Linked DNA regions of Homo sapiens. The protein of the gene in region 1 purifies or fractionates together with the protein of each later gene. This does not show direct contact. Each region holds a gene or a part of one and is shown in the gene's direction. Other genes may lie near its edges.

Region 1 (4,292 bases):
AGAGGCTCCCCTGACAGAGACAGAGGGAGGGGGGCTCCAAAGCCGAGAGAGGGAACCTCCTGAATGAGAGTTTCTACGGCCCTGCATCCTCACCAGCATTTTGTGTTGTCAGTGTTCTGGATTTTAGCCATTTTATTTATTTATGTTTTTAATTTTTATTTTTTTTGAGATGGAGTCTTGCTCTGTCACACAGGCTGGAATGTAGTGGCGTGATCTTGGCTCAGTGCAACCTCCCCTTCCCAGGTTCAAGTGATTCTCCTGCCTCAGCCTCCCGAGTAGCTGGGATTACAGGTGCGCACCACCATAGCCCAGCTAATTTTTGTATTTTTAGTAGAGATGGGGTTTCACCATGTTGGTCAGGCTGGTCTCGAACTCCTGGGCTCAAGTGATCCACCCACCTTGGCCTCCCAAAATGCTGATTACAAGCGTAAGTCACTGTGCCTGGTTATGGTTTGTGTTTCAATCTCTTAATTATGTGATTTGATTTTGTTTTGTTTTTGAGACAGGGTCTCGCTCTGTCACCTAAGTGGGAGTGCAGTGATGTGAACACGGTTTACTGCAGCCTCGACTTGCTGGACTCAAGCAGTCCTCCTGCCTAAATCCCCGCAAGTAGCTGGGACTACAGGCACATGCCGCCATGCTTACCTAATTTTTTGTATTTTTTTGTAGAGATGGAGTTTTGCCCTGTCGCTCAGGCTCATCTTGAACTCCTGAGCTCAAGCAATCCATGTCCACCTCAGTCTCCTAAAGTGCTGGCATTACAGGTGTGAGCCACCGTGCTCAGCCCAATTATGTGTTTTTTAAATCATTCAGTAACATATCTTTGAAGTATTTCCATATCAGAGCATAGAGGTTGCTCATTCTTTTTTTTCCTAATCTTTAATTGTGTGACACATGTACAGAATAGTGTATTAAGACATAACACTCTTTAAATGTGTTATAACAACATATATAACAAATATATATGCATTAAAGAATAATAATAAAATGGGTGCCCATGTAGGCACCCAAGTTAAGAAATAGAACATTATCTGTTCTTTATGACAAATTTTCTGATTGAATCCACCTAGTAGATAGCCACTATCTTGACATTTTTCTTAATAGTTCCCTTGCTTTCCTTAAAGACTTTACCACTTAGATATATTCTTAATGTAATATTCAGTTGATAAACTATAACTGGGATTAATATCACTTATAGTCTTAATATAAAATTTAGTTAACAAACTATAACTGGAATTAATATTGCCTTGGTTTGCATAATCTTTTGTCTAATTGGTGGAGGTTTTTTTTTCCTTTCAGACATGTGAGATCTAAAAGATGCATCCGTGGGCCCTTTGCCAAGACTTAGGTTATCATTTATTTTTTAAATTACACTAGCTAGTGTTAGCTAAGAAGAAATGAAACCACTCATGTATTGCTGGAGATAGTATAGAATGATACAGCCTTACTGGGAGCAATGTGGCAACACCAAGCAAATTTAGCAGTGTAAAGCAGCTGTGTCTAGAAATTTGGCTACTGTTGGGGCCAGGTGTGGTGGGTCACGCCGGTAATCCTAGCACTTTGGGAGGCCGAGGTTGGTGGATCACTTGAGGTCAGGAGATCGAGACCAGCCTGGCCAACATGGCGAAACCCTGTCTTTACTAAAAATACAAAAAAAATTAGCCGGGCGTGGTAGCATGCGCCTGTAATCCCAGCTACTTCGGAGGCTAAGGCAGGAGAATCGCTTGAACCCAGGAGGTGGAGGCTGCAGTGAGCCGAGATCATGCTACTGCACTCCAGCCTGGGCAACAGAGTAAGACTCTGTCTCAGAAAAAGAAAAGAAAAGAAAAGAAATTTTGCTACTGTTGGACAAAGCCTCCCAGGAAAAGATGAGCTGAATTGAATTTCCAGGTATAGCCTGGCTTTGACTTTCCTGAGAGTTTACAGAAGTCCCGTTTGGGGAGGTTATTGGCAAGGTCATGAGAAGCATGGGGCTCAACATAGTTGGGCCGTGTGACAGGGTCAGAGTGTAGACTAGGTATTGAATTTTTGGTACGAATATAATTAGAGGGAGTGGGATGCTATGCATTTTCTGCATCTTGGTTCACTGGTGAATAGCCACCACTCAGGAGTAGATTAAAGCAGAACACTTCTGTGACATGAAATGACTGTTCTCATCTGATCCAAGGCAGTCTGGTATGGAGGGGAAAGACAGATGTCATCAGAACATGTTCAAGATAAGCCAAACCAAGTACAGTTAAGAATCTGGGCCAGGCTCACCCAGGCATTCTGCCCTCAGGTTAATAAAAAGTTGGTACAGTGGCCGCAGGTATCTTGTTGATGACAACCCTCAGAATGCCAGCTTTTGAATCACTGTGTTCCAGTCCGTAACTACAAGTAATGTGGTGTTAGTAGAGAATCAGTGCTATTTCACCATCTCCCACCGCTGTCTCCTTCCCACTCCTAGGGATTTCCTTCCTCTCTCTCATGTTGATCTTTTGTTTGCAGCGTCTCTTTTTTGGATTACTGTTGTTTTATTGAAGTACATGCTTCAGCAGCTTCTTGAGAAAGGGTTTGTGAGAGGTATGTTTTTTAGGCTGAATTTCTGAAAATGTCTTTTTTTTTTTTTTTTTTTTGAGACAGTCTCACTCTGTCTCCCAGGCTGGGGTGCAGTGGTGTGATCTTGGCTCACTGCAATCTCTACCACAGGGTTCAAGCAATTCTCCCGCCTCAGCCTCCTAAGTAGCTGTGATTACAGGTGTGTGCCACTACACACGGTGAATTTTTGTATTTTTAGTAGAGACGGGATTTCACCCTGTTGGCCAGGCTGGTCTTGAACTCCTGGCCTCAAGTGATACGCCCTCCTCAGCCTCCCAAAATGCTAGGATTACAGGTGAGAGCCACTGCACCTGGCCTTCATTCTGTTCTGGTATTTGATTGATAGCTAGGTATGAATGTGGATTTGTCCATTCCTCAGTTTAGTTCTGTCAGGCTTGATATAATTTGAAGCTGTGTTAGTCATTGCATATATGGTTATGGATGTGTGCACACATATGATTCTGTCTTCCTGATGGACTTATCCTTTTATCATTTTGAAATGCCCCTCTTTATCCCTGATAATACTGCTTTTCTGATAAAAATAAAGCCATACCTACCTCTTCTGGGTTGGTTGGTTGGTTTGTTTTGAGACCGGATCTGGCTCTGTTACCCAGGCTGGAGTGCAGTGGCTTGATCTTCACTCACTGCAGTCTTTGCCTCCTGAGTTCAAGTGATCCTCCCAGTATTTGGAACTACAGGCGTGTACCACCATGCTCAGGCAATTTTTGTAGTTTTGTTTTTGGTAGAGATGGGATCTCGCCAGGTTGCCCAGGCTGGTCTCAAACCCCTAGGCTTACGAGATCTGTCTACCTCAGCCTCCCAAAGTTCTGGGATTACAAATGTGAACCACCATGCCTGGCCCATACCTCCTTTTTTTTATGATTAGTGTTATGGTATATATTTTATTTTTGCTTCAACCTATTTATGTTCATATGTTTATAGTATATTTCCCCTAAATAGCTTGTAGTTTGGTCGTGGTTTTGATCCAGCCTGTTTCTTTTTTCTTTTTTTGAGACAGGGTCTTCCTCTGTTGCCCAGGGTGGAATTTAGTGGCATGAACACAGCTCACTGCAGCCTCAAGTTCCTTGATCCAGCCTATTTCTGTCTATTTTTTTTTTTTTTTAATTTTTTTTATTTTTTGAGACAGGATCTCTCTTTCTCACCCAGGCTGCAGTGCTGGAGTGAAGTGGTGTGATCTTGGCTCATTGCAGCCTCAAGCAGTTCTCCCACGTCAGCCTCCTGAGTAGCTGGGACTACAGGCCTGTGACAGTTAATTTTAATTTTAATTTTTTTTATTTTTTTTGTCGTGATGAGATCTTGCCTCCCAAAGGGCTGGGATTATAGGCGTGAGCCACCATGCCTGGCCTATTTCTGTCTTTTAATTGGTTTATTATTTTATTTGTGATTTTTTTTTTTTTTTTACAGGCATAGGTGAATTTCAGTGTGTCATTTTGCTATTTATTTTTAGTTGTCCTGTGTGTTCCTATTTTCCCTTTTATCTTTTTTTTAAGTGGTTGCTGTAGAGATTACAGCTTATAATCTTAACTGACCACCTCTTTAATATTTTGCATATTACTTTACAGTTCGTCTGAAGTGTTTATGGGTTAAAACTAATATATAGGTACTGTCTACATCTGCTCCTTTTGGGTTGTTTATCTCTTGATTGTTTTTGTCTTGTCTTTTTTTTTTTTTTTTTGAGACAGAGTCTTGCCCAG
Region 2 (3,977 bases), on another chromosome or scaffold:
AGGCTTTTTTTTTTTCCCTGACCCTCCTCTCCTCCCCACACGAAAGTTTAATGTTTTAGTGTCATGAATATATTGTATATGTTTATATATCATGTGTATCTGTGATTTATGCATAAAAAGAGGGAGATTTTCTTCATTCCTCCCTGCCCCAGAACCAATTTTCAGCCTCTTAGGGCAGTATGACTCCTTTTGAGAATGCATGGTCTAGGGGAAAGCAAATCTACTTTAAGATAGATAAAAATCTACTGCAAATCTATAGTAGATTTTAATACCACCGTCTATCAGAAGTCCCCAAGTGACTGAAGGCATCTAGGGTGATAAGTACTTGAAACTCCACCATGAAAAGGAAGTATATTTGAGGTGTTCAATCTAAATCTTGAAGCATATGAGGAAAAAGCTCCAACTGTCCTAATTTTAAGGTGATTCTAATAGTCTGTAGAAGTTTTAAATTTTTGTGTTTACAAAAAGCTAGTAACAGCTAACTCACCTATTCCAAATATTATAACGGTCGGAAAGCCAGCCATCATAAAAATTACTTTTCAGCCAGCTAGTTTTCACAAAAAGAGAAGAAAACATTGCAGTGTATCTTTGATCTAATTAATTTCACATCTGTGGTTTGATGTTCAATGATAGGAAGATTGAAGTCATGTTATCTGAGATAAAGCTTTCTTCAGATATCCAAATGCTTTCTCCAAAACACAATGCCTTTGGTTTTTGATTTGTATATTTGTTTGTTTCTTCTTATTAGTTAGCAAGAGGTTGGAAAACAGATTCATCAACAAGTAGAGAGTGGTGAGTTGATTCCCAAATCACAGCTAGGGCATTGCCTGTAACGAGATGACCATATCCTTGCCCTTTCCTTTTTAAAACCTTAGTGTATAATGACTTTGTAGGCAACCTTATTAGGTTTTTCACCTGTTGGACCTGGTTAACGATACAGTTCCAGGTGAAGAGAGTAGAACGTTATAAAGTTGGAAGAGACGTTAGACATAATTTCTTTTTTTTATCTTTTAAATTCAGGGGTACATGTGCAGGTTTGTTATATAGGTAAACTTGTGTCATAGGGGTTTGTTGTACGTATTATTTCATCACCCAGGTGTTAAGCCTAGAACCCATTAGTTATTTTTCCTGATCCTCTACCTCCTCCCACCCTTCACCTCCAATAGGCCCCAGTGTGTGTTGTTCCCTTTATGTGCCCGTGTGTTCTCATCCTTTAGCTCCCACTTATAATTTCAGTAGCTAACAAATACTTACTGACTATTATGCCAGCACTGAGATAAGTGTACTTCAAAGGAAAATATAAGGGAATACTTATAAGTATTAAGTAATACCTATAAGGGAATATTTAATAGTAGGGAATAGGGAGTAATTATACTAAACTGTGAAGAATGAGTTGAAGATAGCTAGGTTAAGAAAAGATTAGCTGCCCAAGCAAAGGAAATAGAATAAACAATGGCCTTGAAATATAATCAATGTGTATCTGTGGGACTGAAAGACCAGTTTGGCTGGAAGCGATGGAATGGTAAAACATAGGCTGAAGAGGAAATTAGGGTACAAAGCAAGTAGAACCTCATACGACACATTAAAAATTTGAAATCATAGGCCGGGTGCAGTGGCTCACGCGTGTAATCCCAGCACTTTGGGAGGCCGAGGCGGGCAAATCACCTGAGGTCAGGAGTTCCAGACCAGCCTGGCCAACATGGCAAAACCCCATCTCTACTAAAAATATAAAAATTAGCCAGGCATGGTGGCAGGCGTCTGTAATCCCAGCTACTTGGGAGGCTGAGGCAGGAGAATCGCTTGAACCTGGGAGGCAGAGGTTGCAGTGAGCCGAGATTGCATCATTGCACTCCAGCACAGGTGACAAGAGCGGGACTCCATCTCAAAAAAAAAAAAAAAAAATTGGAATCATATTTTTTTATTGAGATATGATGCACATACTACAAAATGTAAACTTCGTTGTTTTTCAGGGTATGAAAATCCAGGATATTTATGGATTCATAATGTGCAGATATCACCAGTAATTTCAATATTTCCATCACTCCAAAGAGAATCCTTATACTATTAAGTCACTTCCAATTCCCCCTTGCCCCGTCCTCTGCCAACCACAAATCTACTTTCTGTATCTATACATGTGCCTTGCCTGGACATTGCACATAAATGAAATAGAATATTTCGCTTTTTGTGTCTGACTTTCACATAGCATAATGTTTTCAGCCTTATTCCATGTTGTAGCAGGTATTAGTACTTCATTCCTTTTTATAGCTGAATATTTCATTATATGAATATGCCATATTTTGTTTGTCCATTCATTAATGGACACTGTTATGAAAAATGCAGGCCAGCTGTAATGGCTCACCCTGTAATCCCAACACTTTGGGAGGCCAAGGCAGGAGGATTGCTTGAAGCCAGGGGAGCGAGACCAGCCTGGGCAGCATACTGAGACACCCCATCTGTACCAATAAGTAAGTAATTAGCTGGGCATTTATTTGGTGGTACATGCCTCTAGTCCTAGCTACTGGGTTGGCTGAAGTGGGAGGATCACTTCAGCCCAGGAGTTCAAGGTTATAGTGAGCTATGATTGAGCCACTCTACTTCAGCCTGGGTGACAGAGCAAGACTCTGTCTCTGAAAAAAAATAAACTGACCATAAATGTCTGGATTCCATGCTTCAGAGTTGACTAGATAAATAAGAAAGGTCTGGATTTTTTATTTTGTTCCACTAATTTCTGTGTCTAACCTCATGCCCGTACATCGTCTGGATTACTGTAGCTTTACAGTAAGTTTTGAAATTGGTAAGTGTAAGTGCTTCAACTTTTTCTTCATTTTCAAGATTATTTTGGCTATTCCAGCCCCCTTGTATTACCTTAGGAGTTTTAGGATGTTTGTCAATTTCTGCACAAAAGGCAGTTGAGATTATGATAGGAATTGTGTTGAATGTATCGGTGAATTTTGGGAGTATTGAGTTTTTAACAATATTGAACCTTTCAGTCCATGAACACAGTATGTCTTTGCGTGGATTTAGGTCTTTAATTTCCTCCAGTGACGTTTTCCAGTTTTTAGTATGCAAGTCCTTTACTTTTGTTAAACTTATTCCTAAGTATTTTATTTCTTTTGATGCTATTGTAACTAGCATTGCATTCTTAATTTTTGGTAGTTCATTGAGATTTATTGACTTTTATATATTCACTGTGTATCCTGCAACCTTGTCGAAGTCATTTATTAGCTCTAATAGTTTTTGTTTTGTTTCGTTTTGTTTTTGGGACAGAGTTTCGCTCTTGTTGCCCAGGCTGGAGTGCAATGGCGCAATCTTGGCTCACCACAACCTCTGCCTCCCGGGTTCAAGCGATTCTCCTGCCTCAGCCTCTGGAATAGCTGGGATTACAGGCATGCATCACCTTGCCCAGCTAACTTTGTATTTTTAGTAGCACCAGGGTTTCTCCATGTTGGTCAGGCTGGTCTCGAACTCCCGACCTCAGGTGATTTGCTGGCCTTGGCCTCCCAAAGTGCTGGATTATAGGCATGAGCCACCATGCCCCGCCCAGGGAGGTTTCTTAACTCCTTTTTTTTTTTTTTTTTTTTTTTTTTTGAGACAGAGTCTTGCTCTGTTGCCCAGGCTGGAGTGCAATGGCACCATCTCGGCTCATTGCAACCTCCACCTCCCTGGTTCAAGTGATTCCCCTGCCTCAGCCTCCCTAGCAGCTGGGATTAAGGTGGACACCACCATGCCTGGCTCATTTTTTTGTATTTTTAGTAGAGACGGGGTTTCACCATGTTGGCCAGACTGGTCTCGAACTCCTGACCTCAGGCAATCTGCCTGCCTTGGCCTCCCAGAGTGCTGGGATTATAGGTATGAGCCGTGGTGCCTGGCCTCTAATAGTTTTTTTGTTGTTGTTGTTGTTGTTTTTTATGGCTTCCTTAGGATTTTCTATATAAGACATGTCATCTGCAAATAGGGGTAATCTTGATTTTTTCCTT
Region 3 (3,000 bases), on another chromosome or scaffold:
GGAATGTAATGTATGGCAGAAAAATAGGTTTGGTCTAAAGCTTTGCCAGCAGTGTTCGAAGAAAGTAGGTAATTTGTTCAAGGATAAGAGACTTGATTCTTTGAGGTACAGCCTGCCTTAAAAAACAGGTACATAAGTCGTAGAGTATAAAACAGTATGTGGTGTGGTGGCATAAAAAAAAACAGACAAGGTGTCAGGAGATTAGGATTACTGGTTTAGCTACAGCCTCTTCCTTAATCTATGGTATCTCAGTCTCAGTGTACTCACTTACATGTAATATCTAATGGTATTTGTACAGAACTAAAATACATAAATTCATAAAAGTTATTAATGTGTAAAGCACTGATAAAGTTTTTTTTTGTTGTTGTTGTTTTTTTTTTTGAGATGGAGTTCCACTCTTTTTGCCCAGGCTGGAATGGTGTGATCTCCCGTCACTACAACCTCCACCTCCCAGGTTCGAGCGATTCTCCAGCCTCAGCCTCCCGAGTAGCTGAGATTACAGGCGCCCGCCACTATGCCTGGCTAATTTTTGTATTTTTAGTAGAGATGGGGTTTCACCATGTTGGCCAGGCTGCTCTCAAACTCCAGACCTCAGGTGATCTGCCCGCCTCGGCCTCCCGAAGTGCTGGGATTACAGGCTTGAGCCACCACGCCTGGCCAAGATTTTTCAAATGCTTCTCACAAGCACTTTTTAATTTACAAAGCATTACTTTAGACTTTGTATACATTCATGTGAGTAAGGGGACAAGAATTTAAGGCCCAGTAGTATTGCTTGTTCAGAAAGGTACTGCTCAGTATTGGACCAGCTTGCTGTGTAGCTGGACACCTGAAAGACATTTTCTACTTCTACAGGCAGAGACTGAGCAGCATCTTGATGCTCCCTAGTGCATTAACATAAGCAGAATTTACACCCTTTTCAGCCTTGGCCGAGTGCCTCTGCTTAGCCAACATTCCTACTAAGCTCCTTTGTCTCGATTGTGTCTTGCTTTGGTTGCTAAAAAAAAAATCTTAACTAAAATAACAGATGTTTTGGGGTAAATATTTAAGTATAGCTTTTGGGGACAGATCTAATAATTTATGTTGCCAACTTGTGCTTGTATGTTGCTAACTTGTGCTTGGATGTTGATCTGTTGAAAGTCATGCTGTTTTTTTTGTATTTTGTTTTCTTTCCATAGTTGTGGTGACAGTACATGGAGAGGTATGTGCAGAAAATATTTGTGTGGTTTTTGCAGATTGCTGGGCTCTCTTTCAGCCAGTGTGGTGGATTCTGTGTTGAAAACTGTTCCAGTCAGTATTGCTTCATTGTTGGCCCTTGTATATGTGTGTGTGGTGAGCTGCCGCCATTCCAGGCCTCTCCTCTACCAAAGTGTTGTCTTTAATATGCTGTATGTGGACAGGTAGAAGGGCTATACAATGAAAAGGATGCTTGAAGTACATGGTGCTTCCATGCTGAGGTCAATGATTATCTCTGGGATGAAGGCAAATGTGCAAATGTGGGCACAGTCTCTGCACATTGTACTGCCTTTAATAATTTGCCAGCCGTTTAATATGGAGAGCCTATCACAGTAATATTCACCTTTGTTTATTCTTTAGATTGACCCTGCTACGGGAATGGTTATGAATCTGGCTGATCTCAAAAAATATATGGAGGTAATGGCATGTTGGGTGCTTATTATGTGCTATTCCCTAACTGTAATATTTGGTGGCCCCCTATCTACCTCCCCAACCAGTTATCTCCTAAGGTTCCATGACTTTGTGAATAGAACTGGATGTGGGTGTTGGGGAATAGTTGGAAGAACTGCTCGCATGGCCTCTAAAGGTGTTTTGGTGACTTAACGGAAATTAGTCACAGTTGTGTTACAGCGATGGGAGGAAATATAACATGCTCACCTTGTATTCCTTGTTGGAATATCCTGATTTCCTTCAGTTAACAAATTCTCCATTTCTTTTAAGACATAGCTTTCTCCTTGAGACTTACTGTCTTTCTTTTTTTTTTTTTTTTTAAATAGGCACAGAACCAATGCAAACTTTTCTTTTTGGTAGAGGTAGGGGTCTCACTATGTTGTTCAGGCTGGTCTCAGACACCTCCTGCCTTGACCTCCCAAAGTGCTGGAATTACAGGCATGAGCTACTGCTCCTGGCCTTCTCCTTGGAGCTTTCTCTTCCCTCTCTGAATATTCCTTGTACCTTTGATCATAGATTTAGACACCACACTGTGTTGTTCATTCTAGCTTTATTATAAACTCACCAGAGCAGTACCTCATAGAGATAACACACAAGGTGTTCAATGAAGAACTTAACTGATTGTGTCATTATAGAATTCTTGCACTGTAAGAGACTTTGGAGATTATTCAGACCAACTTCTTCAACCCATAGATTAAGATTGAGAGATGCTGAACAGTTAACTGACTTGCCCCAGGTCATATGGCTAGTCATTTGCAAAGCTGGGAGTAGATTTCTTTCCTTCCAGCTGTTTTATTATGCTGTCATTTCACTTGCAGCTTAGGTTTGTTCTGAGATTTGACATTTGCTTGATTAAAATGATGTTATTAGTAATGATTACTTCTTTCACATTACTTATTCATATATTCAACAAATTTCTCTACTTCGCATCAGTTTTTGAGCTAAGTGTACAAAGATGAATGAGATGTAGCCCACAGAGTGTATACATTACTTTTTCTAGGAGGTGAAGAATATTATTAAATAACTGTTGATTTAATAAATGAGTAGAAGAATGAGTGAATGAAGAAACAGCACTATGCTCAAAATACTTTAGGAAAGTTATACAGATAGGGCCAGCATGCATTTATGGGGCAGGGGTTGGGGGGCAGGCGGAGAGAGAGAGAGAGGGAGACAGAGACAGGAGAAGAGGAGGGGGAGGGGAGGACAGGGGAGGAGAGGGGAGGGGAAAGAAAGAAAAAGAAAAAGAGAAAAGAAAAGAAAAGAAAGAAAAGAGACAAGACAGCAACATAAAAGGCCTCAACATATGACTAAATACTG
Region 4 (3,977 bases), on another chromosome or scaffold:
TCTGTTTTGATCAGGTTCTTACAGGAGTTGCAGGAGAAGATGCAGAGTGTCATGCAGCAAAATTGTTAGAGGTCATCATTCTGCAGTGCAAAGGGCGTGGCATTGACCAGGTCAGTGAAGCTAATAATGATTTGTAGTTCAGAGGGGTAATCTTTTCCTTCCACTTTCTTTCTTCATTTTTTGGCATTTGTTGCATATTCTGTATGTTTTTGTTTATTGAGACATCTAGACAACTAATATTTTTAGTTCAAAATGTAACTAATATATAATAATGATCATATGTTTAATGTACAGGAATTGGACTAAGTTTTATGGCTACTTTGTTATCATGAAAGGTAAACTTTTGCTTAAGATTTTTTGGATAGCTTTAGTAATTAAATATCCATGGTCAGTTTTTTTGTTTGTTTGTTTTGTTTTGTTTGTTTTTTGTTTTTTGTTTTTTTTGAGTGAGAGTCTTGCTCTGTTGCCCAGACTGGAGTGCAGTGGCACATTCTCTGCTGACTGCAACCAGATTCAAGCAGTTCTCCTGCCTCAGCCTCCCAAGTAGCTGGGATTACAGGTATACACCACCACAACCGCCTGATTTTATATATATATATATATATATATATATTTTTTTTTTTTTTTTTTTTTTTTTTTTTTTTTTTGAGACGCTGTCTCGCCCTGTCGCCTAGGCTGGAGTGCAGTCGCGCAATCTCAGCTCACTGCAACCTCTGCCTCCCAGGTGCAAGCAGTTCTCTGCCTCTGCCTCCTGAGTAGATGGGATTATAGGTGCCTGCCACCACACCTGGCTAATTTTTTATATTTTTAGTAGAGAAGGAGTTTCGCCATTTTGGCCAGGCTGGTCTCAAACTCCTGACCTCAAGTGTTCTGCCCACCTCAGACTCCCAAAAGTGCTGGGATCGCAGGCATGAGCCACGTCACCCGGCCCACGGTCAATTTTAATAGGAACTTGTGAAGCCATGATTGATATCATCGTGAGCTTTTATTTATTTTTTATTTATTTCATATATTTTTTTGAGACAGAGTCTCGCTCTGTCGCTCAGGCTGGAGTGCAGTGGCGCGATCTCAGCTCACTGCCTCTGCCTCCCAGGTTCACGCCATTCTCCTTCCTCAGCCTCCCAAGTAGCTGGGACTACAGGCACCCGCCACCACGCCTGGCTAATTTTTTGTATTTTTAGTAGAGACGGGGTTTCACTGTGTTAGCCAGGATGGTCTTGATCTCCTGACCTCGTGATCCGCCTGCCTCAGCCTCCCAAAGTGCTGGGATTACAGGCGTGAGCCACCACTCCCGGCCCGTCGTGAGCTTTTAATAGCTCCATGAAGACTACTAGACTTTCTCTAAAATTAGATTTCCCAGTGCAGTGCCTCAGCAGTAAATATTGGTCATCTAATGCTACAATAGGGTTAATTGAGGCAACAAAGAAGTTAATATTTTTAGAATGTTTGCATGCTATTAATTATAGTCTTAGAATATCTTGCTATCTTTTTTTGTAGTGCATTCCCTTATTCGTGGAAGCAGCCTTAGAAAGACTGACAAGAGAGGTTAAGACAAGTGAACTTCGAACTATGTGTCTGCAAGTTGCAATTGCAGCTTTGTATTATAATCCACACCTACTACTCAATACCTTAGAAAATCTTCGCTTCCCTAATAATGTTGAACCAGTTACAAATCATTTTATTACACAGTGGCTTAATGATGTTGACTGTTTCTTGGGGTAAGTGATGTATTGCAATTTTACTACATTTGCTTTGGGAGGAACTCTGCTTATTTAAGAAAAGAAAACAGTTTTTTTTTTTTTTTTTTTTTTTTTTTTTTTTAGGCTTCATGACAGAAAGATGTGTGTTCTCGGACTCTGTGCTCTTATTGATATGGAACAGATACCCCAAGTTTTAAATCAGGTTTCTGGACAGATTTTGCCGGCTTTTATCCTTTTATTTAACGGATTGAAAAGAGCATATGCCTGCCATGCAGAACATGAGAATGACAGTGATGATGATGATGAAGCTGAAGATGATGATGAAACCGGTAAGGGATTTTCAATGGAAGAAGACAAAACTTATCTACTTAGAAATATTACCGCACTGGGCCGGGCGCAGTGGCTCAGGCCTGTAATCCCAGCACTTTGGGAGGCTGAGGCAGGTGGATCACACGGTCAGGAGTTCGAGACCAGCCTGGCCAGTATGGTGAAACCCCACCTCTACTAAAAATACAAAAATTAGCTGGGTGTAGTGGTGGGCACTTGTAGTCCCAGCTACTTGGGAGGCTGAGGCAGGAGAATCGCTTGAACCCATGAGGCGGAGGTTGCAGTGAGCCAAGATTGCATCACTGCACTCCAGCCTGGGTAACAGAACGAGACTCCATCTCAGATTAAAAAAAAATATATATATATATCACTAGCCCTTCTCCCAAATAAATGTGGGATCATACCCAAATGCTTTCATTCACAGAAAAGACTTCCTTTCTTCTCACTAGAGTGATGTAATCAGGAACTTCAGCTGTATTACCAACATGTAGAACAGTTCAAACCATTATAGTATGCAACCAACAAAGATTTGTTTATTTTACACATTCTCAGCACTGTAGATACAAAGATGAATGAGATGTCATGCAGTTCTTCAAAAGTTTTCTATCCGACTGTGGGAAAGTATTACAAAGCCAAATAATTATGTATATAATAATAGAGTTGACACGAAGTGCTGAGTCCACTTAAGAGCGAGAGATTATAGTTCCCTTTTTTATATGGTGGCATGAGCCTATAGTCCCAGCTACTTGGAAGTCTGAGGTATCAGATTCGCTTGAGCCCAGGAGTTTGATTCCAGCCTGGGTAACATAGTGAAACCCCAGTTTTTTGTTTTTTGGCTTTTTTTCCTTTGAGACGGAGTTTTGCTCCTGTTGCCCAGGCTGGAGTGCAACAGCGCGATCTTGGCTCACTGCAACATCTGCCTCCCGGGTTCAAGCAATTCTCCTGCCTCAGCCCCCCAGATAGCTGGGATTATAGGCACGTGCCACCATGCCCAGCTTATTTTTGTATTTTTAGTAGAGACAGGATTTCACCATGTTGGCCAGGCTGGTCTGGAACTCCTGACCTCAGATGATCCACCCTCCTGGGCCTCCCAAAGTGCTGGGATTACAGGCGTGAGCCACTGCACTGAGCCGTGAAACCCCATTTCTTTAAAAAAAGTTGTGGGGATTACATGAGGGAATCCTTGACGCTTAAATAGTGCTTGGCAGATGGCACTGAATTAACAGTATTAACAAAGGTACACATATCATTATAGTTACTATTACAAGATTTATGGGGGTTTTTTTTGTTTGTTTTTTTTTGTTGTTGTTGTTGAGACGGAATCTCGTTCTGTCGCCAAGCTGGAGTGCAATGGCAATCTTGGCTCACTGCAACCTCCGACTCCCGGGTTCAAGCGATTCTCCTGCCTCAGCCTCCCAAGTAGCTGGGATTACAGGCGTGTGCCACCACACCGGCTAATTTTTGTATTTTTAGTAGAGATGGGGTTTCACCGTGTTGGCCAGGGTGGTCTCAATCTCCTGACCTCATGATCTGCCTGCCTTGGCCTCCTAAAGTGTTGGGATTACAGGCGTGAGCCACCGCGCCCGGCGAATTATGGGGTTTTCATTTTATTTTTAAGCTTCTAAAGATTTATGGTCTTAATGTTGACTAAATTTATTGGAGACATCCATCCTATCATCTATTAATTCTAAAACCTAAGCATACTTGCACTATAACATTATGTTAATTAAATGTTGATAAATACATTTTATCTATAAGACTGTACACTATCAGTGTATAAATTGATAAAATATTAAGAGAAATTATTATAAGGGTTTCAACATAAGATAGCTATTGCTATTTTTGTCTTTTATCATTTACTAACTTAGCCAGCCTTTTAAAAAAAATCTTACAAAAGGTTTGGTGGGTGTAACGGTAGTGTGTTCATACTGCGCAGTTCTTTTTCAGATG

The links.
Region 2: the proteins of ZFP1 (region 1) and NPAT purify together in Homo sapiens (affinity purification with mass spectrometry; one large-scale study listed by BioGRID and IntAct). This does not show direct contact.
Region 3: the proteins of ZFP1 (region 1) and PTS purify together in Homo sapiens (affinity purification with mass spectrometry; one large-scale study listed by BioGRID and IntAct). This does not show direct contact.
Region 4: the proteins of ZFP1 (region 1) and IPO7 purify together in Homo sapiens (co-immunoprecipitation; one large-scale study listed by IntAct). This does not show direct contact.

What each region holds. Positions count from the first base shown.
Region 1 is NC_000016.10:75,154,650-75,158,941, forward strand, and holds part of ZFP1 (zinc finger protein 1 homolog), read left to right. Parts: intron 1-2,487; exon of another isoform or gene 2,488-2,562; intron 2,563-4,292. UniProt on the Homo sapiens protein: May be involved in transcriptional regulation.
Region 2 is NC_000011.10:108,212,557-108,216,533, reverse strand, and holds part of NPAT (protein NPAT), read left to right. Parts: intron 1-3,977. UniProt on the Homo sapiens protein: Required for progression through the G1 and S phases of the cell cycle and for S phase entry. Activates transcription of the histone H2A, histone H2B, histone H3 and histone H4 genes in conjunction with MIZF.
Region 3 is NC_000011.10:112,229,033-112,232,032, forward strand, and holds part of PTS (6-pyruvoyl tetrahydrobiopterin synthase), read left to right. Parts: intron 1-1,175; coding exon 1,176-1,198; intron 1,199-1,593; coding exon 1,594-1,650; intron 1,651-3,000. UniProt on the Homo sapiens protein: Involved in the biosynthesis of tetrahydrobiopterin, an essential cofactor of aromatic amino acid hydroxylases. Catalyzes the transformation of 7,8-dihydroneopterin triphosphate into 6-pyruvoyl tetrahydropterin.
Region 4 is NC_000011.10:9,436,257-9,440,233, forward strand, and holds part of IPO7 (importin-7), read left to right. Parts: intron 1-14; coding exon 15-110; intron 111-1,497; coding exon 1,498-1,718; intron 1,719-1,823; coding exon 1,824-2,029; intron 2,030-3,977. UniProt on the Homo sapiens protein: Functions in nuclear protein import, either by acting as autonomous nuclear transport receptor or as an adapter-like protein in association with the importin-beta subunit KPNB1.